Linked DNA regions of Homo sapiens: region 1 is linked to region 2. The links come from fine-mapping of genetic effects on gene expression. A gene starts in region 2. The other region holds a variant in brackets. All regions are shown on one strand. Distances are between the middles of the regions. Region 1 overlaps MAST4 (microtubule associated serine/threonine kinase family member 4). Region 2 holds the start of MAST4-AS1 (MAST4 antisense RNA 1).

Region 1 (5,385 bases), 27 kb after region 2:
AGACACACAACAAAAAAGTGGGCTGTGAAAGAAGTAAACAACCTTGATGGGTGAGAGATCATTGAAATGTGGAAGACTGTAATCTAGGCAAAACAACAACAACAACAATACAAAACAAATAGCTATCGTACAGAGACTCGAGTGAGAGTTGAGGAGCAATTCCATTAGAGTGGCAAACAGGAAATGTACTCTGAGGGTAGGAGGTGCCACTGAAGGGTTTTGTACAGGACAATAAGATCACATTTGCCTGTAGGAAAGATTCCTAGCAATGAGGGATTGAACTGGAGTTGTGCAAAAAGGATTCCAGGATCTGAGTTAGAGCAAGCATCACGGGCTTCTGGGGCAGATGGTGATGATGCCACAAGCAGGCTGGTGACCGTGAGAATGAAGGGAGACGCTCAGGAAGTGGATTCTGAAAGACTGGATGACTAACTGAGTGATTAGAGTGAAGAAGAACTAAAGTGGAGGTTGTGCTCATAGTTCTGCTTTAGCCTGTTAGACAATGGTACCAATTACTGAAATTGGGAACACAGAAGCAAGACACGTTGGATGAAGATGATATCTTCAGTTTGGGATTCATTGGACTGGAGCTTCTATAGACACACCCAAGTGGAGATGCTGGATATGTGGATCTGGATGGAAGGCAAGAGAGTTCCAGATTGGGGATTAAGAGTCATCCACCGCCGGGCATGGTGACTTATGCCTGTAATCCCAGCACATTAGGAGGCCCAAGTGGGTGAATCGCTTAAGCCAAGGAGTTCAAGACCAGCCTGGGCAACATGGCAAAACCCCATCTCTACAAAAATAAAAGATAAATAAATTCGCTAGGCATGGTGTCATGTGCCTGTAGTGCCAGCTACCTGAGATGCTGAAGTGAGAAGATCACTTGAGCCTGGGAGGTTGAGACTACAGGCAGCCATGATCACGTAACTACACCCAGCCTGGGCGACAGCACGAGACACTCTCTCAAAAAAAAAAAAGTCATATACATAAAGATTAATGAAGAGTGCCAAAGGTAATTAGTGTTGAATATTTATTTTCCAGCAGCTTCAAGTATTTATGGTCTGCTTAGACCCAGGTCAGAGTCTAAGGTTTCTGGCCCTCTGCATTCCCAAGAGAAATGGAGGTGGGGATGGGGAGACAATTTGTACATGATTTTAAAAGTGTTTTCTAGGAAAGACAAGCCATAGAGCCATCCTTATACTTATGTTTCCCATAGGCATATATGTTTTGTTTTACTTTGGAGTAATATTCGGGATGTAAACATCTTTGCTTGTAGGAGGATCAGATACCTACTGAAATGTCATCAAACTGCTAGCATGTTTCTTTTAGTTAAGTATATTGAGGGACCTTACCATTCTGTGTATTTCATCTCTAAGAAAAAGGAAATTAGGCTGGAGAGGTTTGAAAGAAATTGAGCAGGAAATTGGGGTTGCAAAATTCTATGGCAAGGTGATGGTGTGTTTTGATTGTTGGGTTTTGTTTGTTTATTTTTTGATAAGAACAAAAAGTGTTTGCTACTTAGAAAACCTTTATTGGCAGCATGATTTCTGTGTCCATGAAGAATGAAAGTGAGGTGGATGGAATAGTAGGAGTTTTAGAAGGAAAGTACATTTCCTCATGTGAAAAAGGTAGGAGAAAGGAAAATATAAATTCATTGCTGTTGACTTTATAATTTGATATTAACAACATTATTGAAATTGCTGTGGACTTGAAGTTTGTCCTGTTTACGAGTTTGCACAAAGTTAATCCTAATTATTCTGAAACTAAGACTTATATATTATTTTTATACATTTGAATTTCTCTAAATTATATACTTAAATTTTGTTTAATGAAATTTTTTCAATTAAATAAAAATGTATGTTTAAGGTTGAAATTTACTAGTATTTCACATGATTCCTTGTTAAGTGTTATATATATTTAGGAGCATCTAGGAAATTGTAAAACCAAATTTCAAATTAAATGTGTATTTTTATTATCTAAATATTTTGTATACATATGGGTCATTCACATCCTTATAGGTTTTTATTTAACAAATCATTTCTCAGGGCAATACAACATAAAGGCTCTATAGTTAATTTAGTAATAGCATGGTGTGATACCTGTATTCCGTATCTCTTTTGTTTTATAGTGTTACAAGCAATATTTGATGGTTTAGGGTTGTTTTCTTTTTAAACTTTGGCTTGAACCAGGTTAGCACTGAATGAGAGCTCTGAGATGACCATCTGATGTTTATTAGATAGCTGTGGTAAAATGACATAATCATCATTTTGGTTTTGAAGAGGTAACCATAGCACTGGTGGCAAAAATAGATCATCTGAGTGACATTTTAACTCAGAAAATAAATACCTTTTCATTTCTGTACATCACCATTCCAGAGCAGGCCTGGGGCAAATTGGTCAGAGTCCTAAGGGGTGATATTTAAAATAAGATCTGTTTTGTATTAGTAATGAGGTTGTGGTTTTAAGCCCTTCCATTCTGTTGTGTAGTTTCAAGGGAGTTTAGTTTAAAACATTAAAACCATACAAACATTGTATATTTGGAACACCTAACCTCTTCTAAGTGTTCTGTACCTCAGCACTTTTTTTATCTTGGGTGTTTGTGTCACTCTCTTACAACGTCTACTTTTATAAAGCCTTGGGTATCTCAAACGCTATGTTTTTATTTAGTATTTTAGTGCAATAGAACATTGTGCTAAAGAGGCCAAGGTCATGGGTGTTGATTCTATGCCAATTAACTGTTATGGTGAAATTTTTTTCCTGTAGCTTTGGCTGGTATTTCAGAAGTTGCTAGAATTTGACTACTTTTGTTTAAAGTGTGGATAATGCTGCCTAACTCATTAACTGTCCTGTAAAAAGTAAAATTGATGTCTATTGGGGATAACACTTCCACATAGGATATTTTTTTCCT[A/G]TGTGAAAAAAGCATTTACTTTCATCTGTGGATGATCTCTGACTAGACTAAAATGTATGCGTTTATTAAATAGATTAATATCAGTTCCTGGTGGGTGGAGATTATCAGTCTTTAAATTGCTACTCTTTGCTGCTTTCCTCTGCATAGATACAGAGAATCTGTCAGCTCCCTGGCTAGTCCAGCAGAAAGCCCTGGGCATTTCCCAGAGTTGATGGCAGAGGAGGGTCGTCTCTTGTCGCCTTTTTAGCCTGATTTATTGCCCTTGAATTTTTTAATAAGGACATATTTTAAGTTCTGTCTAGGGACTGAGGGCTTGGATCATTCATGCAGTGAACTTTGAATAAGTTGGAAAGATTGGCTGGGCCCTGTTATCATAATGGATGGTGACTATTTGACATTTACAGTGGTATGCTCCATTTGCACTAAAATAAATGAATTTGTATTTAGACATGATTTGCAAAATTTTTCCCTATCACACTTAAAGTAGAGGTTATTTGCATTCAAAGTTAAACACTGAAAAACTGCGTACAGACTTAGTGAAGATTTGTAAAATACATGTTAATTGGCATAACACCATTAAACCTGATTGTGCTGATCTGTTAGCTGGAGAAAGAGCAGGAATCATCTTGTTCCCATATCCCTACAATCTAAATTGTTAGAGTTTCTAAAGATGGGGGACTTCTCTGAAGTGAATATTCCTGTCAGGCCTGTTGACCTTACTGCCTAGTGACCTATTCATAGGTCAGGATGGCAGTTCTCCCTGCTGGGTCAGTTTTTATTCCACCTTCTTTCGTGAGAGAACTAATTTGTACAGCTCTTACAGGTGGAGAACTAGATCACTGGTGTCCTTTACTGCCTCTGATATATGTGGAAATGAATCAGTGGAAAATTCAGTTACTCATCGTGACCTACTTCTGTCACTTGCGTTGAAGGGGTGCTTATTTGTCAAAAGCAATCTGCCCCCCTTCCAAAAACTCTTGCTCCATGGCTGCTTTAACTCATTTAATCTATAGATTCTTTCAGAATGTTTGCAGTTGCCTAAATCTTTCTGTGAATTATCCTGCTGTACCTGTAATCCATTTTAGATTAAGCCTCTGGAGGCCAATGAAAAAATCTGACTTTGTTACCTCTCAGCACAGCCTGACCCACAATCTCTGCTTTCTAATGAAGATTCCAGGATCTTTAGGAGAAACTGTAAAATGGAAACTTCCACTAATTTGAGAAGGGGGAGATTTAAGAAAGGTTGGGTTTTATTATGACTAAACTTCCCCACCCACGTTTTTTGCAAAATTTATCTTTTCTCATTTTTATTGGCTTATTCTTTCAAAATATTCATTTATTCAGCAAGGTTTAATTAAGCATGCCTCTGTGCCAGGTATTGCATTAGGGTCACAGAAAGAACAAGATACATGCTTGTCTGCAGTGCCTAGTAGGAGAGCTATAAGGTATCATGTTAGAATAAATAAGACCGGTTTTAAACGCCATTTTTATTTTGGGGGAGGGCAGAATTATTTTACATCAAGAACAAAATAAGGGTTACTTCTTACCTGACTTGATGATTTTTCAGCAGCATAGTCTGGTCTGTCTGGATCAGTGGTTTACCTATTTCATATGGTCACATGTGTCAGTATGTACAATGATTATTTACCATAGACTTTTAGGTAAATGATGAGAGGATTATTGAGAACAACAGAATTCAAAACCCTTGAAAAAGAAAATGATGTGTATCTATATTTTAAGCAGAAATACACAAACACACTTATAGTAACTACAAATAACATCTAGTAGCTCAGACCTATTGCCATTTATTTCATGTTCAATATTGTACAGACAACAAACTATGAAAAGTGATGTACCATATTTATATGTATACAGGTGAATTTCAATCCAACACTAAGATAATTACTTTATGTTGTAGAATCATATATAAATACTTTTTGCCCTGTTCTAACCATGCTTACGAAGACTTTCAGATTAAGAATGAATGGTCATACTTAAAATAAATAGAAACTAGTATTTGATGAGGAGAATGGCATTCCTTTGGAAACCCATCTCATTCTTGGCAGTTAATTAGTTCTTACTGTGAACATCTAACCCTTAAAAAAAAAAAAGAAAGAAAAACACTCTTGCTGACTTGATAACACTTTTTAAAAAGTGGCAGCTATTAACATTAAAATAACAGTGAAATTTTTCTCTCAGCTGAGAGTTGTAAGGATTACTTTTTTGGGTTTTCATTTCTCTGTGTGTGTGTGTGTGTGTGTGTGTGTGTGGCTTTTTTTTTTTCAGATTGTTACAGATACTTCTCCTTTTTGAAGAAACTATACAGGCAAAAAAAAAAGCAGTCAAGCTGAGCTAGTTTGGCATAGTATATTGCAACATAGGCATAGGCAGGATTTATATTCTAAAAAATATTCTGTGTTTTTTGGCCAAGGAACAGAAACTCCTGGTCAAAGTCATAAATGAAGCAGCAGATTC
Region 2 (5,385 bases):
TGTAGTTAAAAATACTCATGTCTTTACCCATTCCTTTGAGAATTTCTGTAGAGGCTTTCTCAAAATGCAGAGAGTGGAGGCAGTCATAACATATGATGCCTGCAGATTGGGGTATCTGTCATTTAATCAAGAGAAGAAATAAACATTTTATGTCATTGATTTATCCATTTTAGTTGCTATCATCTTTATAGGTTATGCCCCAATACATGGGCTTTTCTAGAAAAACTATAGAGAATATGAGAGTTGGGAGGTATTGGAGTCCTCAGGTCTTCAAACCACCTACAGGTTGTGTTCTACTCACTGTATCTCCTTCAAGTTTTCTCTGCTCAAACAGCTCTCAGAAAATCCACTCTTGTGTCAGCTCTTTCATCTTTGGATCCAAACACTCTTTCACATAGTTCTCATAGTTTCACATAGCTGTATTCAACTACTGCTTGTTCCCTAAATTTTTTCTTCTCTACTTTCCACAGAGTTCTTCAACCCATAACTTATATAGCACAAGTTCATGTCCACCTTGATTACTCTTCTCTGTGCGGCTTATAATATGTAATTGTCCCTCTTGATCTTGGATACCTACAAGTGAGCACAAAAAGTTATTCTCTGGGCTTGCCTTTGAGGAGGGGACATGGGACTCAAAGGGAATTCCCCTTGAGTTTGATTGTGACATTTCTTAGAGCCATGTAAAGACCTGAGGAATGTTAGCACTGATATCTTTCCAGCTACATGATATAGATACAAATAAGTCACTAAGAGAAAGTCTTCAGAATTTACCGTCTTCATGGGATTCTCAAAAATTCAGTATTCTTTGAGAATACAGATCTACTAGTACTAATAGTTTCAGTGCATCTTAAGAGAAATAAGAGATACTTGGGCTTCTGAAGTATCCATTCAAAAAGGATTTACTAATATTAAATGCCTATATAAACTGAGGAGCTGTCAGGTTCTGAAAATATGAAGATCAGTAAAATGTGACTTTAGCCTTGAGGAACTCAGACTAATTGGAAAGACAGCAGTAAACAGTCAATTATACACAGTGTGATCAGCAGCCTGGTTGAAGACTCTAGAGAGTAGAAAGAAGCACATTGTGGGGTGTCCTCTGCTCCAGTCTTATGTCTGTCAGCATAGTATTCTCTTAGCTTCTGTATACTGCCTACATTTATGCGCAGTGTGTGTGTAGACATTGCGTGAAAGGGCTTATGTATGCCATCTCCTCTTCATTTATGTATATCAGCCTCTTACAGGTTGGTCCTATTATGGACCCCATATTGCAGCTGGGGAAAATGAGAAGAGATTTAAGGTCATAGTAAGTGTTGTATCCAGAATTCAGACCCAAAATTTTTGCTCTAAACCAGTGCTCTGTATCACCCCTCTCAGAGAAGCCTTTATCTGGAGCAGTGGTTCCCAACCAGGGGTGATTTTACCTCCCAAGGGACATTTGGCAATGTCCTCAGACATTTTTAATTGTCAGCACTGGCATCTAGTAGGTCGAGGTCAGCAATGTTGCTAAACATCCTCCAATGCTCAAGAAAGCTCCTCAGACAAAGAATTATCCAGCCTATGTCAACAGTGCTGAGGTCTAGAAACTGCTCCGGAGCACAGGGACACTCTTTTGTGTCAGCCTTCAAAACATCTTTTGCAATACTTAGAAACATTTTTTAAAAGAAGAGCATGGGGCAAAAATGCTGGACCAAGCTCATTAATATCTATTGAAGTGTGTTTTGTCATTTAGTGTCCCTGAATGTTTGGGATAAAGTCCCAAATGTAAAATTGAGAAAATAATGCCTTCTTTGTCTACCTCTGTGGGTTGCAAGGATCTGTGGAGGCTCTGTAAGAATGTGAGGAGATAACGCATACGAAAGCCTTGGACATGAAACATCATCCAAAACTCTTGGAGTCCTTGGTGTGAAAATATTAATGTGGGCCACAAGAATTAGATAAAGAAGATCCCACAGCAGGCTTCTTTTTGTTTACCCCGCCTACCTTGTCAGCTTACACCCCCTCTTCCTTCTCTTTATCCTCCCATTTTTGTAAGCGAGTTTGTTCCTGGTATTTACTGCATGGACTAAGCCATTTTTAGATGTATTTTTTGCTGAATATATACTTTTTTGATTTAGTATTTCTTGCCATATTACACCAGACTTAAGGCAGCTAATTTAAATTATATTTTTTCTTTATGTACTTTATACAAACATTCATGGATAGGGGGAGATATTTAAATACCATGCCTTTCTTCAAAATGAATAACAAGAACATTCAGCCCCCTTCATTCTGCCCTTTCAAGGTCTAACGTACTTGAAGGGGCAATACTTGTAGCATTTGCCACATAAATGCCAGGTAGTGTCTTTCCACATCGGGGCTCACCATTACCTAGATCTGTAGTTGCCGGCCATGAAGCCAAACAGGTGTGCACCGTGGTCATTGATGGAACAGATGTAAACTCATAAATTTAGTTTACTGAGGTTTTCGGTGAGTGTGGCTTCCCGTCCGCGTGCTTTTCCTATACAACCAGCGGCGTCCTGGCGGAGGAGTCACTGTGGACTTCCCCGGAGCGTTGTCACTGCCATCCCTCCCGCGGTGAATCACAGGTCGGCCTCAGGTGCGCGCAGCACACACCCGGAGCAGCCGCGGGTTTATTTATTTATTTCCGGGACGGATCCATTCCGGGCTCCGGGGAGGGGGAGCGGCGGCCCAGGCTGCGGGGCTGTCCCGGCACCGGCTGGGGTCGCGCCGCGGCCGCCTGCTCCCTTTCCCGTGAGCCCCCGCTCCTCAGGCGCGGCCGGGGCTGGTGGGGGGTGGGGGATGCAGGAAAGCTGGGGGCGCGGCCACCAAGCTGTCCAGGGACAAGGCCCTGCCGCCTCCTCCCAGCCGGACCCTGGAAGGGTCCACAAAGGTGTCAGGTTCAAGTCCTCCAATAGGCCCATTTTTTAAAAGTGCTTTTAAGTTTCCGCTTTTTTCAGGAGGGGAGGGCAAGAGCAGCTTTTTCTATTCAAATTCTTTTCCTTGTATGTAGATACCAAAAGGAAACTCGGCACTGGGCATGTTCGGATGTGAATGGTTTTGCTGATAAGCAACAGCCTCCGGAACCAAAGCCTCAAAATAGTCGTCTCCCCCGCCCCTCGCAGAAGCGGCGAGTGGTATCTGCCAAACAGATGACAAAGTACCTCCGACTGAATCCCACAGACAGCGCTTTGAGCAGAACGCACGGCTCAACTCATGTAATTACTGTTTATAGCTGGCCGAGCCTGACTAGGAGAGGGCAGACCCGAGAGGAAATCAGTTTCCCGGACCTTTGAGAGGAGGCTGTGTGTTAATTAAAGGCTAGGACGGGACGGGTACTTCTCAGACATGCTCCAAGTTGTTCTTGAGATCACAGTTCCCATCACATTTTCTCTGGAGGGAGTGAGTAGATAATTGGGATTTTTTTTTTATTTTTGGCCTTGTCTTTCTTCCTTTTTTTTACCTCTCCCCATTTTAGTCATATGGCCTTGAACCCACAGTGAATTGAAGAGAGAAAGAAATGGATATGTCTGACCCCAATTTTTGGACTGTGCTCTCAAACTTTACTTTGCCTCATTTGAGGAGTGGGAACAGGCTTCGGCGAACACAAAGGTAAAAACGCGGGGATCTCTGCCTGGAGAGGGAATGCTTTCACTTCCCAGGGGCCCACAGGCGGAGCTGCCTGAGCCCCTCAGGAGCTGGGGTTTTGTGTATTGGGTGACACTTTGAAAAGTTTATGCCCCGCTAGGGGAGGGGGTACTGTTTCAGGTATTTCTTCGTCCTTGTGGTTTCCTGGGTAACCCTGATAAATGTGCTTCTCATAGGTTTTCTCCTTTTGAAATGTGGATAATAAGACATTTCCTTGTGAGAGGTGGGGGAGAAAAAGGGAAAGAGGAGGAGATACTTTGTCTAAGTCTGTCCCTTTGACCTGATCATGTTTATCCATTTCATTCACCCAGTCATTGAGGCTTCTGGTACTTTTCGTTGAGCCCTTCAGATGTTCCTCTCTATTAAATATTTGACCTTTATAAGATGCAGATGTACGATGCAAGGATAGCCCAGGTTAGCTATTTCATACTATCTGTGGAGAGGCAGATCTACATAACTTTGTCATTTTGATTTTTCAATGGTTTGCTGGCATTTATTACTAATACAGGAGTGTCCTTTTCATTTTGTAACGTATATTTGATAGAAAAGATGGGGAAAGAAAAAGAATTTTAATGTCAAGATGAAGCTCATGCCACAAGTGACAGGCAGTTCCAAGAGTTTGCTGACACTTGTGTTGAGAGACTATGACTTTGAAGGAGGCATTTCTCACCACATTTGTGTCCAGCACAGAAAAGTAAGATTGTTGTACTTTTAGAGGGGCACACCTTTTGAGTTGTGTTAATACTGATTCTTTGTTTTCCTTCAAAACTTGCCTTGCATGTACATGTGAACATGCATGAGAGCAACTTTGCAGTCAGATAAACAGGATGCAGGCTCTCAGATTTGGAGCTTCACAATCTCTATGCTTCAGTGTTCAAAGAACCCAAGAAAATGGTTCGTTCTTTTTGGTTATACCTGTAACTTTTTGTAGTATAAATGTGGATATGTGATACTTTAGAAAACTTAGTTTTTCCTTTTGAAGTTTTTCATGGTTTCTTACATTTCAGAAACATCCTGGAATACTCACATACACTGTTTATATACATGGGTGCACACACAAATCACATGTGCACCTGTGTGTATGAGAGAGACATCTGGCAGGTTTCAAAGTCATATTTGCTTTTTGATGCAGTTTGAAGTGTTGATACCACTAAACTATGTTGGATTCTGAAGTTGTACCTTTTAAGTAATGTGACTATGTTTTTCTCGTTCTGCCATATATGGTCAGAGACCCTCTCTTGTAGTATTGCTCATTTTGTAGTATTGCTCATCAAGTTGTGTCAACCATGCACCAAACCTCCAAGACAACTAATAAAGTTGAAGAGAGATACATGCTACACATGAACTAGGCCACTGCTCAACATGGTGATAATTCGTATGATTTCTTACCATTTCAGCTGGACAGAATCCCTTAAATATTTCTGAGTTGTGTAGTCCTGGCTGCGGTACAGCCTCTACTCTTACCTGGAACCAGTTCTTAGGGAGAGAAGTCTGTTCTGGCATCGTATGTGTGTGTCTGAACCCGTAGAGCAGTTGGAGCCTTTCTTCTTCCTACCTACCTGTTGATAGTATTATTGGAGAGAGTCAGATGCAGGAGGATTCTCAGGCTGCTCTGAGCCTGGCTTTAGGGCAGTACCTGTCCAGCCTGAACACTCCAATTCAGACAGCTCACACTGACAGAGAGCCTAGATTCTAAGGAAACCTGAATTCTTCCCAGTAAAATGGGAGAGCATTGGGTGG

The links. PIP is the estimated chance that this variant, and not a neighbour inherited with it, causes the effect.
Region 1: its variant is fine-mapped to the expression of MAST4-AS1 in whole blood (INTERVAL, PIP 0.95).

What each region holds. Positions count from the first base shown.
Region 1 is chr5:67,028,166-67,033,550 of GRCh38, forward strand. All of the region lies in intron 4 of MAST4 (microtubule associated serine/threonine kinase family member 4), which reads left to right. Among named protein-coding and RNA genes, the nearest start is that of MAST4-AS1, 27 kb to the left of the region's middle. The variant A/G (reference allele first, on the strand shown) is at 2,911.
Region 2 is chr5:67,001,477-67,006,861 of GRCh38, forward strand. MAST4-AS1 (MAST4 antisense RNA 1) reads right to left here and starts at 2,678. Exons shown (of 2, transcript NR_111908.1): 1 at 2,368-2,678; 2 at 142-573. The region is part of intron 4 of MAST4 (microtubule associated serine/threonine kinase family member 4); the gene reads left to right. RefSeq lists a silencer at 2,556-2,895.